Homo sapiens: one gene and its partner. The protein of the gene in region 1 purifies or fractionates together with the protein of each later gene. This does not show direct contact. Each region holds a gene or a part of one and is shown in the gene's direction. Other genes may lie near its edges.

The links. The genes of interacting proteins can lie anywhere in the genome.
Region 2: the proteins of S1PR2 (region 1) and HPCAL1 purify together in Homo sapiens (affinity purification with mass spectrometry; 2 studies listed by BioGRID and IntAct, with this or other methods). This does not show direct contact.

Annotation. Positions count from the first base shown.
Region 1 is NC_000019.10:10,224,832-10,228,331, reverse strand, and holds part of S1PR2 (sphingosine 1-phosphate receptor 2), read left to right. Parts: intron 1-3,384; 5' UTR 3,385-3,426; coding exon 3,427-3,500. UniProt on the Homo sapiens protein: Receptor for the lysosphingolipid sphingosine 1-phosphate (S1P). S1P is a bioactive lysophospholipid that elicits diverse physiological effects on most types of cells and tissues.
Region 2 is NC_000002.12:10,309,404-10,312,903, forward strand, and holds part of HPCAL1 (hippocalcin-like protein 1), read left to right. Parts: intron 1-2,299; exon of another isoform or gene 2,300-3,500. UniProt on the Homo sapiens protein: May be involved in the calcium-dependent regulation of rhodopsin phosphorylation.

The DNA of each region.
Region 1 (3,500 bases):
TGTTTTGTTTTGTTTTGTTTTGAGACAGTCTCGCTCTGTCACCCAGGCTGGAGTGCAATGGCTGCGATCTTGGCTCACTGCAACCTCTGCCTCCCGGGTTCAAGCGATTCTCCTGCTTCAGTCTCCCAAGTAGCTGGGATCACAGGCGCACACCACCATGCCCGGCTAATTTTTTTTTTTTTTTTTTTTTTTTGAGTAGAGGGGGGTTTTACCATGTTGGCCAGGCTGGTCTTGAACTCATGATCTCAGGTGATAGGCCCGCCTCGGCTTCCCAGAGTGCTGGGATTACAGGCATGAGCCACTGCGCCCGGCCTAAACACATTTCTTATTTATCCAGGAAGCCACAGCAAATCTCTTGGTGAGCAGCAGAGGGGGCGGCTGCACTGCACAGCGTGCTCCCCAGGCCTGGAAAGGGACCTTGATTCTCACTTATGAACCCCAGGAGGGGCCCAGCAGGCCAGGGCAGCCTGGGGGTGTCTGGTCGGGGTGACCCAGAGGTCAGGCTGCGGTTCAAACTCCCCCTAGGGACGTCCACATAGCATTAACTCTATCCTCAGAAAGCCTGAGCTCCCGTCGCCTATAAAGGACCCCATCGGTAGGGCTGGCCGTAGAGCGCCCCCAACTGGACCAATCAGAGGCAGAAGATGGAAAGCCCGGGCCAATAGGCAAATTGCTCAGTGCCCTTGGATTGAAAATGAGCCAATCAGAGCATGGGCTGTTTCCGGCCCATCAGCTGTGTCTGATCCAGCCGCAGCCTGGGCCCAAGCCTGCCTGGGACTGGCTGCAGCGTGCAGAGGGCATCAAGATGCCCGGGGCTGCGTCCAGCAAGGGAACAAGGGGCCTCTGTGTGGCTATCTGGGAGGGGCAGCAGTCCCCGGGGACGTGCACAAGCCCTTGTCTGTTCCCAAACTAGGACGGATGTCCCTCCGCCCTGGGGGAGCAGCTGCCTCTATCCAGCCAGGGGCCAGGATGCCCCTTGGAGGGGGCGGCCAGGGACTGAGATGGCTGGGTGACTCCGGAAACCTCCATCACTCCTGGGCTCAGGAGAACTGGCCTAACCAGACTTTTCTGGAACGGTGCACACAGTCCTTGCCAGACGTGTTTCTAGGGACCTGAGGAGGACTCCCCCTACTCTCCCCCCTCCCTCCCATTTAGCTAAGGCTGGAACTTCCTCTCCCTTCATGAAAGGCATACACTGCACTGGCGCCTCTGACAACCCCTAACCCTACCCCCAAGCTGGGGGAAGGCCATGGTGTCTGCCTCTCATCCTCTCTGCCGAGGAGCGCCTCTCCCCGCCCCCTCCCACCACGGCTCAGTTTTCCTTGGTGGGTGGCGATGGGGGGGGATGGGAGGGGGTAGAGGGAGGGATGGAAGAGGGTGGAGGGGAGGGATGGGAGGGGGTTGGGGGGGTGACTCAGGTTTTCATGGAACAAATGCCTTACCCCCTCCCGGCGGGGCTGCACACCCCTTCACGGCTCACATGACTTCAGCAAAGCTGCCCCATCCTCCCAGCCAGGACCTCCCAGATGGGGTCTCTCCCATCCTGACTCCCCCTACATCCCGCCTTCCTCACACCGGATGTGACTGCAGAGTGAGGACTCCACCCTGTTTGTTCCAGGGGCCTCACATCTGGATTTCATCCTGGCTGGGGAGGGGGTGCCAGCGCCCTGCCCATCCCGGCAGGACCTTCTGTCCCAGGGCAGAGCTAGATGGTGCTGATGAGAACAGGCTGTTGGAGATCTCGTCTGGTTGGCTTACATCCCTTCCCTTCCCAAAGGACTGGAGGAAAGAGGGGAGCTAATAACATTTGGCAGTATTTGTTGAGTGCTTACTATGAGCTAAACGTGCCTCATGCGTCATTTAAAAGGATTTTCCCATCACCCCCATGAAGTGGGCTTTCTTCTCTCTATTGCACAGATAAGGAGGTTCAGGCTGAGACAGCGTCTAGGGACTTGCCCAGTGTTTCAGAGGTGGAATGGGAGCAAATTCTGGATTGCCTTCAAGGTCTGTGTCCTTGAAGATGGTGTGACCTCTGGGATGTTTGAATCTCAGGGCCGCCCTGGTGTCTCCCCAAGACCTTATCTTGGGAGCACCCGTGGCCTCAAGGCTTAGACCCAGCCTGAAATCCAGCGTTAGTGGGTGGTAATGAATGAGCAGGGCACGGAGCTATCAGTGGTGAGACTCTCCCTGACCCAGGTCAGCATGAGGGCGCAGGCGCCTGTGTGTTCCAGAAAAGAGACAAACCCTCCAGGACCTGCCTAGGGCTTGCTCTCTGGGTAGGTGGGCAAGGTTTCTGGAAGTCCACATTATATTTTTCATGCCATTTGGGGGAGCTTCTTTCCCTTTGAAAGCGTGTAGCTACTCAGGAGACTGAGGCAGGAGGATCACTTGAGCCCAGGAGTAGAGACAACTGTGAGCTATGATCATGCCACTGCACTCCAGCCTGGGTGACAGAGCAAGACCCTATCTCTAGAAAATAATAATGAAAATTAAAAGAGGCAAGATGTCATGGTTCATACCTGTAATCTCATTGCTTTGAGAGGCCGAGGAGAATTGCTTGAAGCCAGGAGTTCAGGACCAGCCTGGACAACACAGTGAGACCCAATCTCTAAAAAACAAAAAAACTAGCCAGGCGGCTGGGCCCGGTGGCTCACACTGGTAATCCCAGCGCTTTGAGAGGCCGAGGCAGGCGGATCATGAGGTCAGAAGTTCGAGACCATGCTGGCCAACATGGTGAAACCCTGTCTCTACTAAAAATAAAAAAAAAATTAGCTGGGCCTGGTGGCAGGTGCCCGTAATCCCAGCTACTCAGGAAGCTGAGGCAGGAGAATCACTTGAACCCAGGAGGAGGAGGTTGCAGTGAGCCAAGACCGTGCCGCAGCACTCCAGCCTTGGCAACAGAGGGAGACTCCATCTCAAAAAAAAAAAAAAAAAAAAAAAATTAGCCAGGCGTGGTGGCATGTGCTTGTAGCTGAAGCTGAGGTGGGAGGCTGAGGTGGGAGGATCACTTGAGCCCAGGAGTTCAAGGCTGCAGGGAGCTATGATTGCGCCACTGCACTCCAGCCTGAATGACAGAGCAAGACCTTGTCTTTAAAATATAGATAAATAAAATAAATAAGAAAGAGCGTAGCCTAGGGCTTATAGAGGCCGCAGAGCCAGTCTCTCTGGCCCTGCCGCTGGTTAAATTTGAGACTTTAGGAAAGTGAATTAATCTCTCTGGGTTTCCCGTCTGTAAGTGGGGATGATGATGATTCTGAATTCATGTGGCCCTTCCTCGAAGAGTAACAGAGCAGGAAATTGAATCTCAGCCCATCCGAGGCCAGAGCCCAGGTAGCAGCCACAGCTCTGACCTATTGTCTGTCTGTCTGTCTGTCTTCTCTGCAGTTCTGAAAGCCCCATGGCCCCAGCAGGCCTCTGAGCCCCACCATGGGCAGCTTGTACTCGGAGTACCTGAACCCCAACAAGGTCCAGGAACACTATAATTATACCAAGGAGACGCT
Region 2 (3,500 bases), on another chromosome or scaffold:
AAAGTAGAAGGATCAAGAATTAAACGAGGTCACTTTCTCTTCCGCCCTTGTTTTGGTAGTAATGATATGCCCTTTTATGGCCTTGCCTGGGCTGGTGTTCAGATTTTCCTGTACGAGTCTTGTCATCCCTTCCTAAGCCATGGAAGCTCCTTCTAGGGCATGAGTGCTGTGTGACACATGTTCACACAGTGTTGCCCCAGTACCTACCTAGTCCACAACTGAACAGGTAGAGATGGTTCAAGCAATGTGTGTGTGTAGAGAGGTCTCCTGGTAAATAGAAGGGGCTGGGGGAGGGCGTTGAATGCAGTGGTGCTGTGGCCTTGGGTGGCTTGGTGCATTTCTGATGCATTTCTCACCTTGGATCATTTTCACTCTTTGAGGAAGAGAGCAGAGGATGAGATGCCATTTGACAGATGCACAAACCAAGACACAGAAATTGTATACCCATTGTACGCCAGGTAGATCACAAATGACCGTTCTCTCCCATGGTTGTAGAGAACTCTCATGGTGGACAGAAACCATGAAAGAAATCATGGTGGAAAGAACCAAGACATTCTTGAATCGGAGTATTAGAACCTCATTTGCAAAATACCTTGGAAAGATCAGGGACACTGGGGTTTGAATTGTAGTCTTTGCTCTGTTGTTTATTGGCTGGTGATGGTCTCTGAATCTGTTTGCTCAGGTGCAGAAAGGGGTTTTAGGCTGAGCTCAGATATTGACAGGAACTACAATTCAAACCCAGGTCTGCAGATGTGGCAGACTGGGTTTGAACTGTAGTCTTTGCTCTGTTTACTGGCTGGTGATGTTCTCTGAGTCTGTTTGGTCATGTGCAGAAAGGGGTTCTAGGCGCAGCTCAGACGTAGATGGGGACGCAGATGTGAGTACCTAGGTGAGTCTGGCTGGTCACGTGTGGAATAAGTGGTGGTGGCTGCCATTACTCTTTAAGCATTCTTGGATCTAGTGCCTCCTCTGCCACTGAGTACAGAATTCCTTTTCAAATTCGGGCTTATGAGGCATGTTTTGATCCAGGCTGTCGTAGCAAGGGATTTGATGCTGGAGTCTGTGACTGCTGTGCGTGTGGAGGCTTCCGGAAGGCAGCCAGTGCTGGTTACTGCTTGGAGTTTGGGGAGCTGCCATTTTGGATTGTCCTAGCCTCATGCCTTCTGAGAAGCATCTGTCAGGGTCCCTGATGCACCTACAGAGACCCTGAGCTTGGTGGTGGGGGTTGCACAGAGAGAGCTGCAGGTTGTTCCTCAGGCATAACGAGGCCCGGAGCTGGTGGTCCCCTCCCTCTGTGAGTGTGTGCAGAGCATGGATCGGGTCTGGGAGTGTTCGTGCTGGCAGGCCGGAGGAGGACTGCTGGGCACACTTGCAGAATTGCGGTTCTGTACAGCAGTGTGTATCGACTGCAGCGCTCTTTTTCTCTAGCAGCAAAATGCTCAGCTCTCTGCCTTCTTTCTGTGCATTTAACAGACGTTTCCAGAAAGCAGAATTGATGACAGCCCCAACTCCTCCCTTTCACTCCCATCTTTTCTATTTGCTGCCCTGTAATCAATTTTTGGAGAGAAGTGAGAACCTCTCGAAATCGATCACCTATGTTGAAAAAAAATCATTTTTAACATCATGCAGTTTTCCGTATTTACTGTGTGTGGCTGGAGACACTCCTGGCAGAATGAGTGTGGGATGTAGGAGGTCCAGAAAAGCCCCCAGCTTCAGGGGCTGAGATAGGGCCATGGGTGGCAGAACTGGTTGTCCCCCCGCCCCCCAATCCCTCAGCAGTGGTTGAGGTGTGCTTTATTAGAAACTCTTCAGTCATGCAGTTTGGAGCCCGTGCTGGTGATGCAGCCTGGATGCCTGGCAGGGGCTTAGCCTCCAGGGGTGGGACATGAGATGTGGCTGCCGTGGCTTCTCTGTGTCTTTCTTCCCAGCGAGTAAAGGTAGACGCAGGGCTCTGGCAGGTGCTAAGGCCCTGCTTGCCTTCATGCTGGAATGCTGGCAGGTACAATTTATTCTTATTTCTTAGGAGGTGCTTTCCCCTCTTCTTTCTGAAGACATCCAGGGATAAAGAATTGCTGCTTTTATGAGCACATGTTCTTGGTGATATGCTGTTACCTTATCTAAAAACAATACGGCCTGGCTGATTATTCTCAGAGCTCATTGTAAGGTGAAAGGTTATGCATTTGAGAATTATTTTCACAGTGTGGATGGGAGTGGGGGGAGAAGATGTAGAGCACAGGTAAGGAATTCCAGGTTTTGGGGCCAGGGATCGCCAAGCAGTGTAAAGGGCTCACTGTGGCCTGTAGCTCCTTCCCCCTGTGGTTTGTGCTGGGCCAGTTGCTGGCTCCCCAAAACCATTATCACCATTATCATTATCACTATCATATCCATCACCTCACCATCATTATCACTGACATCATCACTTTTCTCCATCACCATCATCATCATCATCACTATCATCCCCATCCCCATCATCATCATTACCATCATCATTGCTGTCGCTATCATCATCATCATTCCATTCATCACCATTCATCATCACTGTCATCATCACCATCATCATCACTGTCATCACCATCACCACCACCATCATCACCATCGCCATCATCACTGTTATCGTCACCATTCATCATCACTGTCATCATCATCGTCATCACTATCATCCCCACCATCACCACCATCATTATCACCATTCTCCATCACCATCATCACTATCATCCTCACCATCATCACCATTCTCCATCACCATCATCATCATCACTATCATCCCCACCATCATCACCATCACCATCATCATCACTGTCATCATCAACATCCATCATCACTGTCATCACCATCATCATCACTATCATTACCATCACCATCACCACCATTATCACTGTCATCATCACCTTTCTCCATCACCATCATCATCATCATCATATCATCATCATCATCATCATATCATCCTCATCCCCATCATCATCACCATCACCACCGTCATTGCTGTCATCATCACCATTCACCATCAATGTCGTCATCACCATCATCATCACTATCATCATTATCACCATCATCACCATCACCATCATCATTACTGTCATCATCACCATTCACCGTCACTATCATCACTGTCATTATCACCATCATCATCACCACCACCATCACCATCATCACTGTCATCCCCATCCTCATCATCATCACCATCACTGTCATCATCATCACCATCACCACCATTGCCATCACCATCACCATCATTATCACTGTCATCATCACCTTTCTCCATCACCATCATCATCATCATCATCACTATCATCCCCATCCCCATCATCATCACCATCACCACCATCATTGCTGTCATCACCATTCACCATCACTGTCATCATCACCATCATCGTCATTATCATCATTGTCACCATCGTCACCATCACCGTCATCATCACCATTCATCATCACTGTCATCACTGTCATTATCACCATCATCATCACCACCACCACCATCACCATCACTATCATCGTCATCA